Linked DNA regions of Homo sapiens: region 2 is linked to region 1. The links come from fine-mapping of genetic effects on gene expression. A gene starts in region 1. The other region holds a variant in brackets. All regions are shown on one strand. Distances are from middle to middle.

Region 1 (5,230 bases):
AATAGAATAGCATGATGCCCAAATCACATGCCCTATACAGCGAGACCCTAACCAGCTAGCTGATTTTACAGAGATGATGGTAATAGTCTAACAGTTTCTAGTTGTCAAGTGTTTACTATGTGTTAGATGCTGTTTTAAGTCACTTACATGTAATATCTCACTTAATCCGCATAACAAGTGTTTAAGAAAAATAAGACATTAATATCATGTTAGTTAGGGAAACCAGACTGCCACAGGAGCCAGGGCTTAAACGTTGAGAGTCTAACTCCAGAACCTGTGTTCTTAGCTACAGAAAATTGACAGCACTGTAGCAATTACTAGAATTGTTTGTTTATATAGAGGAGTATAAGCAACAATCACAAATTGTCCCAAACCACATATAACCCCACTAAGAATTTTGCAATTTCAACTTCTACTCACAGGTTCAGTGTTCCAAGCATCGTGGGGCACTCAGGAGAAAAGAAATGGATCTAAAATAGTTCTAACTCCCAATGAGCTCACAGCCCCAATGTGGAGACCTCCAATTAAAACACAATGTGACAAGGGCCCATCCCACCAAAATAGCTGATAAGGCCTAGGGTAGCAAGCACAGTGTGTGTATATAAGTGTGTTAAGGGGATGATGAAGGGGAGGATGCCTTCTTCATTCAACACATTTATCCTTCAAACAAAGGGTGACATGGAATTGTTGCTTGGTAAAGAAACTTTAAATTTCCTTTATGGTTTTGTCCTGTTGCTTAATACATAAGACAATAAAAATGTACTGCTTGGCAAGCAGTCCTTACAAATATATCACTCTCAAAATTCTTCTCCCATTTTACTTACAAATTAAGTTGCAAGCAAGCCTCACTGCCAACATTGTTAATAGTGAAATTCCACACTGAGTGTTTTCACTAATTATACTGAGAGACATCAACGTTTGGGAATGTTTAATGCTCATGGATAGGTGAAGCGTGTTATTTCTTTGAACTGGAAAAAGAAACAGTTTCCTCCCACAAATCAAAGCCCCAACTATATCACATTGATTTAATTCAACCCTAAAAACTCTATAATTAGTGGTTACAGAAAATGGCTAATTACCTCTCCCTGTATTCAGACAATTTCTGCCATCTCACTTGCAGAGCCTGGGAGCTGTGTACTCAACCCACCCACTGACGGGAGAATGCTAATTAGCATTGTTGACTGGTGATACAAGTTATAATATTTTTCAGCAGCCCCGTAAAATTTATAAACATGTCAGTGAAAATGCCAGATTCTTTTACAGTTTGTTAGCTTTTGGACTAAGTGTCTAAGAATACATTCATTTCTAACCAAAGCCAGGTCAAGAGTTTTAACAAAATGCATGGGCCATCTACACAATCATCATCATAAGGCGCTCTAACACTTCCTAAGGAGAATCTAAGAGAGCTCACAACACCTTCGCAGCGTGGGCATTAGACCTGGTTTGGAGAAGTGAAAACTGAGCAACAGATTCCTCAGCTCCAAGTCTCATCTGCTCATCACACAGCAGCCAGGCCGCGGCTCCGCCCCACTGCTGCCGCCACCACGGACGCGTTTAAATTTTTATAAAGCTTCACACTTCTCTAGGCGCGATGCTTGGGGCAGTTCAAAGACTGCAGAAGGAAATGAGGTCCTGCCGGTGGCGAAGGCTGCCCCGGCGCGGTGAGATTTCCTCCAGCAGGGACACCTTGGGCAGAGACCCGCCAGGCGCCTCTGCTCCACCCCGGCGTTTTTGAAAGTAAACTCCTACCTGCCTGTTGCGCTCTCCGAGGCGCAACCGGACTCGCCCCCCAGGCCTCCAGGGCCGGCTCAATTTTTTGTGAGCGAGGTGTGCACACAGACCAGCTCTGTCCCGGTTCCTGGCGAAGGGCCAGGCGGCGCCCGGGTCGAGCCCCGCCAGGGGTGGGAACCCCGGTGCGCGCCCGGCTCCCGCCCTGCACGGCTGCTGCAGCCGCCCGGTGCCTCCAACGCTCGGCCACTCCCTGCCGGCCTGCCCGCCGCCCCGGCACGCGCACCGAAGGGGCGCACTCCAAAGGCCAGCCCGGGGAGAAAGGGACGTCCGAGGTGTGAGCAGGGAACCCCGGGACCCCAAGGAGTGGGGTGCGGCGGAGATCGCACGGCAGGGCCAGGAGGGGCGCAACGCATGGGGAGAAGAGTGGAGTCAGAGGAAGCACTACCCGGAGCGCTCCGGAGGAGGGGAGGGAGCCCCCGGCCCGAGGCGGGAGCCGGCCACCCGGGGTCGAAGTCCGGCGGGGCGAATGCGGGAGGAGGGCGCAGGGGCACGCGGGGTCCGAGGTGGGGGCGTCTCCCAGCCAACGGTCTGCCCCGGGGACCGCCGCCGCGCAGCGCTCGGCCTCTCGCGGGACTCACCTCCGCGCCGGCCGCCCGAGCTCCGCGGCCCGCGGTCTCGGCTCACAGCGGCCCCGGCTCTGCGGCCTGCGCTGGGCTCCTGGAGAGGCAGAGCCCCGCCGCCGCCGCCGCTGCACTGCTGCTTTCCGCTTCCTGTCCCGGCGCCGCCCCGCAGCCCGAGCCCAGCCCTGCGAGCCCGGCGCGGCCGCGAGCCAAGAACAGCTAGCGCTGCCGGCCCCGCCGCGGGGCCGGCCCACCTGCAGCGGAGGGCGGGGCTCGGCCGGCGTCCCCCTCACCTCGTCACCGCCCCGACCCCACACACCCGGGACACACACGAAGGCGTGCGCGGTCACACTCTTACACACGGACCAGGGAATGACACCTCCCACACTCATTCACCCTCATACACACACTCACCCTACACAGACGTGCACAGCCCAGTAACCCACTCTCTTCTGGGCAGACACACACACTATAAACACATGGCCCAGGGATTGATCTCCGACACCGCCCCCTCCCTCCCCCACATACTTGGAATCTCAAGCTCACACACACACACACACACACACAATCATGCACAAAATCCGAGCCCATTTGCCCTCACGAGTGCCCCCATCCACATATTCACACGGCTCAGGGACTAACCCCCCAACCCCACTCAACACACACTCATATACACACTTTCCAAGAACTGACCGACAAATATCCATATACACCATATCTCAACCCATATACACACACTTAAACTCACATGTAGCCCTGGAAATGACCCCACAAATAGACACACACACACACACACACACACACACACACACACCCCCTACAAGCCACCACAGCAAGCCTCTCCCCTCCTCCTCCCTTATCAGAGCAGGCACTGCCGCCAGCCTAGTCTCCTAGAAACTGCTAGATGAGCACATCTCTGCAGGCAGGTAGCTGAAGCTTCAGTGCTGATTCCAACCAGGTACTGTTTCCTTTCTGAGCCTTTGTTTACCTGTCTGAAAAGTGGTGAGGATGCTGCTGTCCACCTTGCAGGATTGTGGTGAGGATTACAAAACAGTTGGCAACGATTTTCATGAATATTTGCACTTTTCTTAGTTGTCTTGTGTTGGTAGCATTAGGGTTCCTTACTGATCATCTCCAATCTAGCTGGGACCCAAAGCTGCTTACGTGGCAGGATTTTCCAGTGGAAGCAGTGTATAATGAAGTGCTGAATTTCCTAAGAGTTGTCTACAGGAGTATTGCGGGCATTTGGGGTGGGGAAATGCAGGCCCACCCTGACTAGCCTTAATCAGGGAACCTTGGCTCCAAGAACCCCTCACTCCCTTGATCACCTCTTCCTCATCCCTTCTAGACTCCATTTTCTCTCGCATATGTCACATTTCCTTGAGAAGACACCCATATGTTCAATGTGGCTGATTTTCACCACTCCTAGTCCCCAGGCTCTGCTGCCCCACTCAGTGGCCTAGACCATCTTCCTCCCCCACCCCCAGCCTCCCAGTAGGCTCCAGAGAGCAGATGTTGCTGACTCAGGCAGCCAGGTTCCTATGGGTAAAGCCAATGGTCTATTCACCCAAATCAGCACTCAGGGTCAGAAATGTAGAACATTATAAAAACATGTCTCTCTCATCTCTAAAATGTAGAACTTTCAAAGTTCAAACAGGCCAGGGATTTCCAATTCTAGTCATGTACCTGAATAGCTCCAATTAACACAGAGATCTTCAATGAGTTTTCAGAAAGTAATTCTAATTCACTTAGGTTCTTATGTCTAGCCACCTTACCAGATGATGTTTTGTGGGAAAGAGGGGTAGTTGCAAATAACCTATTTTAAAATAATAAATTCACCTTTAAATGCCATGTAGAGGCCGGGCTTGGTGGCTGAAGCTTGTAATCCCAACACTTTGGGAGGCTGAGATGGGCAGATCACTTGGGGTCATGCGTTCAAGACCAGCCTGGCCAACATGGCGAAACCCCATCTCTACTAAAAATAAAAAAATTAGCCAGGCGTGGTGGCAGGCACCTGTAATCCCAGCTACTCAGGAGGCTGAGGCAGGAGAATTGCTTGAACCTAGGAGGCAGATGTTGCAGTGAGCTGATATCATGCCACTGCACTCCAGCCTGGGCAAAACGAGACTCCATCTCAATTAAAAAAAAAAAAAAAAAAACATGCCGGGGGACCTGGGCAAGATGGCTGAATAGGAACAGCTCCAGTATGCAGCTCCCAGCAAGATCAATGCAGAAGGCAGGTGATTTCTGCATTTCCGACTGAGGTACCCAGCTTATCTCATTGGGACTGGTTAGACAGTGGGTGCAGCCTACAGAGGGCGAGCTGAAGCAGGGTGGGGCGTCACCTCACCCAGGGAGCGCAAGGGATTGGGGAACTCCCTCCCCTAGCCAAGGGAAACCATGAGGGACTGTGCTGTGAGGAACAGTACATTCCAGCCCAGATACTATGCTTTTCCCATGGTCTTCACAAACAACAGACCAGGAAAGTCCCTTGGGTGCCTATGCCACCAGAGCCCTGGGTTTCAAGCACAAAACTGGGCGGCCATTTGGGCAGACACTGAGATACCTGCAGAAGGTTTCTTTCATACCTCAGTGGCTCCTGGAATGCCAGTGAGACGTAACTGCTCACTCCCCTGGAATGGGGGCTGAAGCCAGGAAGCCAAGTGGTCTAGCTCAGGGGATTCCACCCCCATGGAGCCCAACAAGCTAAGATCCACTGGCTTGAAATTCTTGCTGCCAGCACAGCAGTCTGAAGTCGACCTGGGATGCTGGAGCTTGTTGAGGGGAGGGGCATCCGCCATTACTGAGGCTTGAGTAGATGATTTTCCCCTGACAGTGTAAAGAAAGCCACTGGGAAGTTTGAACCGAGCAGAGCCCAC
Region 2 (5,230 bases), 32 kb before region 1:
ATACCAGGTGCTGGCTGAGGTCGGCATCGCCCTAAGGCAGGTTAAGTCTCATGAGCTTAAATATCCATTGGGATGATTCCAAGTTCTATGACATTATGAGACTTCAAAGCTAGTTGGCATTTATACCAGGAAAAATACTGGAGACTTGGGAGTTCACCCACCACTTTCCTGCTTCCTAAAGAGGAGTAGCCTGCCTGGTTTAGGTCTGTGCTGAAGATGAAATAACACATTTTAAAGTGGTTATTCAAAGTAAATAATTCATAAACGATAGCCACCACGAGCTTATATGGCCATATATGTTGAAGCGGCCAACTTGATCCCAGGTGCGCCTGTACCAACCTCCTCCAGAGGCCCACCATGAGGGTACTGCCATGGGAAATGAGCCAAGATGGGTCCACTCTGCACAGTTTTCCTTAGGGACTGGGGCCACAAAGTTATGCTACTCTTTGTTTTTATGCAGTACTTCCTGCCAACTCTCAGCCTCCTGAAAATCAAACCTACCTATAGGGAGGCATCCATTGTAGGAGTACTAGATTCCAGAAGGTCTAGATTCCTGCTACCTACCCTGTAATCCTGTATAAGTCATTTCCCCCTTCTTGGCCTTTTTCTTGGCTTTTGATAAAGAGATAACACCAACCACTGCATGTGGTTGTTGAGAAGAGCAAATGAAATAATGACAGTGAAGGCATTTATAAACTATAATGCATTGTACAAACACAAAAAATTATCGCATTACTAATAATAAGCATGAACATTTTGCAGCGGTGATGGGGTTGGTTGGTGGCTAGAATATACACACAGCTCCTAGCCACAAAAGCATGACCCCATTTCTATTTATACTGAACCTCAAAATTTTAGAAATGGAAGGAATCTTAGTGTTCACCCAAGCAGAGATTCAAGAATCAGAGAAATCAAGAGTCCATCAGTCCAATCTCCCAATCCATATACCAATTGTTTTTTTTAATTATTTTATTTATTTAGGGATGGAGTCTCGCTCTGTCGCCCAAGCTGGAGTGCAGTGGCGTATCTCAGCTCACTGCAACCTCTGTCTCCCAGGTCCGAGCAATTCTCCTGCCTCAAATCCCAAGTAGCTGGGATTACAGGCGCACGCCACCATGCCTGGCTGATTTTTAGTGGAGATGGGGTTTCGCCATGTTGGCCAGGCTGGTCTTGCACTCCTGACCTCAGATGATCCACCTGCCTTGGCCTCCCAAAGTGCTGGGATTACAGGTGTGAGTCACCAAACCTGGCCAATTTTTATTTTTATTTTTGAGACAGTCTCCTTTGTCGTCCAGGATGGAGTGCAGCGGTGCAATCTCAGCTAACTGCAACCTCTGCTTCCCAGGTTCAAGCAATTCTCGTGCCTCGGCCTACCGGAGTAGCTGGGACTACAGGCACATGCCACCACGCCTGGCTCATTTTTTGTATTTTAGTAGAGACGGGGTTTCACCATGTTGCTCAGGCTGGCTCAAACTTCTGGCCTTAAGGGATCCATCCATTTCAGCCTACCAAAGTGCTAGGATTACAGGTGTGAGCCATTGCGCCTGGCAGCCATATAACAATTCTTTTTACAAGCTCCCAAATGACATCCAGCCTTTGCTTGAAAAGAAAGTTCACTTTCACACTGAAACGACCTTTCAGTTCTACCACTGGTTCACCCAATGCCTTGTTCTGAACCCAAGTCCCCCTTGCTGGTGAAAGCCTTTTAGATACTTGAAGGAAACAATCGTGACCATAAACCACCCCCATTTTAACTCCCTTATTTTATAGCTAAAGGAACCAAAGCCTAAAAAAATGTGTGCATACATGCACACACACACACAGACGTACACATGGTCCCTTCTACTTCCCATTCATTCACCCTCCCTTGAACTTGATTGTGGCTTCTGCAATCAAACTTGTATTCTTACATGTTATTAAAATCCGAAATTAACATTGAGCTTTAGAGCTCATCCAGGCTGATGCCCTCACACTTTATGGCCTGCAACTTCTCCCTGAGCAGGGAGAAGGGATGAAGACATCCCCCATGGACAAGTCCTTTTCAAGTTTTAGCCACATCTTTTCAAATATGAATTTGATCCCTTCAGCTAGGTCAATAAAAACAGCTTTCTTCACACGTGGAAAATGTCAAAGTACTTCTTGTATGCTAATTCCCCAAATACATGTCACGTCATTCTTCTTATTACCTAGGTACATGCTGACAGAAAAAGTACTAAAAAGTTTTCTCATCATAGAGTAAAATCTGCAAAGATCTCCTTTTAGAGCATGCAGTCACTATCCTGAAAGCCAGCTAAGGATGCTACATTCAGAAAAATCTTAATAACTAGCCTCTCCAACTCCATCAAAAGCAGTTA[C/T]GAATTATGAGCACCTGCTAAGTCCCTAGTACTGAGACCCGGATGTAAATGAAACCTTCAAGGGGCTTATGCTCCAATTAGTGGTGAGTACCACTCAAACAATAAGTACAGTCAAGTGATCCAGAGACCGTGACAGAACATGTACACCAGGAGAAGAGGGACGGTGTTTCCGCCAGGAATCCACAGTGGGGGCAAAGCTGGGCTGTTAAGTCTTACAAGATGAATGATGGTCACACCAGGGACAACAGGCTGTAAAGCAAATTCCAGGCAGAGAAAGCAGTGTGAGCAGAAACAGGCTGGTGTTAATCCTCCCAAACATCCACAATAGAGCAACAGGGTCAGTGTTCAGTCACAGGACAGCACAACTTGGAGAAACCCGTAGTGGCAAATAGTGTCTCCCAAAATTTGCATCTACCCAGAACTTCAGAATGTGACCTTATTTGGACACAGGGTCTTTGCAGATGTTATGTTTAGTTAAGGTAGAGTCATTCTGGTATCCGTATAAGAAAAGAGGTGGCCAGGCCTCTTTGGCTCATGCCTGTAATCCCAGCACTTTGGGAGGCCGACACAGGCAGATCATTTGAGGTCAGGAGTTCAAGACCAGCCTGACCAACAAAGTGAAACCCCATCTCTACTAAAAATACAAAAAGCAGCTGGGTGTGGTGGCATGCATCTGTAATCCCAGCTACTAGGGAGGCTGAGGCAGGAGAATTGCTTGAACCTGGGAGACAGAGGTTGCAGAGAGCTGAGATCGCACTAAGGCACTCCAGCCTGGGCGAAAGAGTAAGACTCTGTCTCAAAAAAAAAAAAAAAAAAAAAAAGAGGACATACAGAGACCCACAGAGAGGAGGTCATGTAATGATGGGGGCAGAAACTGGAGTGACACAGCCATAAAGGAACACGAAGGGTTGCCAGCAGCCACCAGAAACTAGGAAGAGGCAAGGAAGGATTCTTCCCTAGAGGCTTTGCGGGGAGCACAGCTGTGCCAACACCTAGATTTTGTACTTTCTGAGAAGGAGAACTTTTAAGCCATCCAGTTTGTGCTATACTCTATTACTTCAGCCTTAGGAAACTAAGGGGAAGCTACTTAGGAAACTACTCGAACTTAGGGAAGGAAGGGTGGAGGCAGGTAAGCGGCAAAGCTGGTCAATGGTAATGGAGGCTGCAGATGAATGCAAACGTGAGAGAACGGGAGGAAGGAGGGTCAGTGGACAGGGACAACCAAAGGAGGCCAGTACTGACGGCTGCCCAGGCACTAAGGCCACTCATTACCTACTTTTTAAGGTGTGCCTGCTCTGGTGGCTGCATTTTAGGGCCCAAACCTAGGTCTTTGAGAGAACTCTAAAATGCAGAATCCCCAATACAAGTTGATTCAGCTTTCTGTGAAAACCTGCAGCTAGGGTGCAATAGCTGATGCTTTCAGTTTTACCCACCTGCTGCTTCCCAGAAGAGTCCGTAAGAGCTAAATCTACCTGGACGTGTGGGCTTCACTGCTCCCCACACTTGGAGATAAATGACTTCAGTCTGACAGTCAGGTACATTTGTGGCAATATTTGTGTGAGTCCCAGAGAAGAGAATATAATTAGCCCCTGGACGCTGAACGCCACCGCCTTCACTGACAACCAGGCACATGAGTGTTTATATCTCCTGGCCCTTCTGCCTTTTAATTAAAATGTTTGTCTCACAGCTGCATTTGGGAAGTTAGCTTACACAAGTCCCATAGATAACAGGCAATGATCACCTTGGAACTTGAGAAGGACAAAGAGGGACAAAAACTGGAATTAGCTCATGTTTACTGACAGGTCTGGTTTAAACTGCACAACAAAGGCCTGGACTTGGTTGGACTTTCAAGATAGAGGGGGAGATCCACAGGTTTCTGCTTGAGGTCTTGAGACACAGGAGACTGACCATCCCGCAAAGGGAAACAGATCAGAGGCTCTGTGTGGCTGCTGAGGCCCATGGGAAGGCTCTTCCTCGGGCCACCTGGATTCACTCGTGCCTCGGGCCTGCTGGTGCCTCAGCTACACAAAAGCTTCGGCAGCCAAATTCTTTGAACCAATATCGGAAGGCTGGAAAGCGTACCTGGCTTTTGGTTTGAAATTCAAGCTGTGGACAAGCCCTGCAGGGTATCCCCACTGAAAGATGAACATGCAGATTGGCAGCCTAGGATATCTAATCCCAGAGCGCCAAGGAAGTGGAATCAGCAGGACTTGGGAATCACAGAATGATCTCCAAAGTGCAGTGTGCAGGACACCCAGAGCACTTCTCCATGAGTCCCTAATAATACAAATAAAACTATACCCAGAGCATGCCCGGAGGACACCATTCTCTATCAACACTGGGAGGAGTTTGTGAGAACCAGAAGTAGCTAATAGCTCATGCAATTACCTGGATCTTCTGGTCTCAGCAACTAAGCAATACAAGGTTGTCAACATATGCACCCCTCCTGGGCTTAACACCACGACCCAGTGGCAGTTCTGAGTGCAGAGACACACTGCTGGTCTCCTCCTGAGGAGCTGAGCCAGTTATGGATGAAGCCCTCTGGCTGCCTTCCCCACAGCACAGCGATGCTGGCAGACCTCCCCTACTGGGGCACCTAGGAGACACGCTTCCCTACAAGTGAGGGGCTTGGCTCTGCCACAGTCTGCCTGGGGAGCATGCAGCCCTGCTTGTAGGCCGCGGCACAAACCTCGCCATGCTGCCATTTCCTTACACAGTCCAACCTGCACTGCGCCTCCCCTGCCTGGGATGGGAACTTTGCTCTCTCCACGTCTTAAATTACAGTGATGAATCACACCAAGATAAACAGCAGAGGCATGGGGATCAAAGACAGCAGCCTGCTTAGGGTGCTCTAAGAAAAAGATTTAGATATGGAC

Direction of the effects. Alleles are on the strand shown, and positions count from the first base shown. SD is a standard deviation of normalised expression in the study named.
For the expression in ileum of the gene that starts at base 2,486 in region 1, C is the high allele of the variant in region 2 and T is the other (small effect, 0.27 SD a copy in GTEx).

What was found. PIP is the estimated chance that this variant, and not a neighbour inherited with it, causes the effect.
Region 2: its variant is the best candidate, but not a certain one, in a credible set for the expression of VANGL1 in ileum (GTEx, PIP 0.66).

What each region holds. Positions count from the first base shown.
Region 1 is chr1:115,639,226-115,644,455 of GRCh38, reverse strand. VANGL1 (VANGL planar cell polarity protein 1) reads right to left here and starts at 2,486. Exons shown (of 8, transcript NM_138959.3): 1 at 2,370-2,486. RefSeq lists an enhancer at 1,871-2,629 and a silencer at 1,765-2,754.
Region 2 is chr1:115,671,540-115,676,769 of GRCh38, reverse strand. The region is part of intron 4 of VANGL1 (VANGL planar cell polarity protein 1); the gene reads right to left. Among named protein-coding and RNA genes, the nearest start is that of VANGL1, 32 kb to the right of the region's middle. RefSeq lists an enhancer at 4,830-5,230. The variant C/T (reference allele first, on the strand shown) is at 2,355.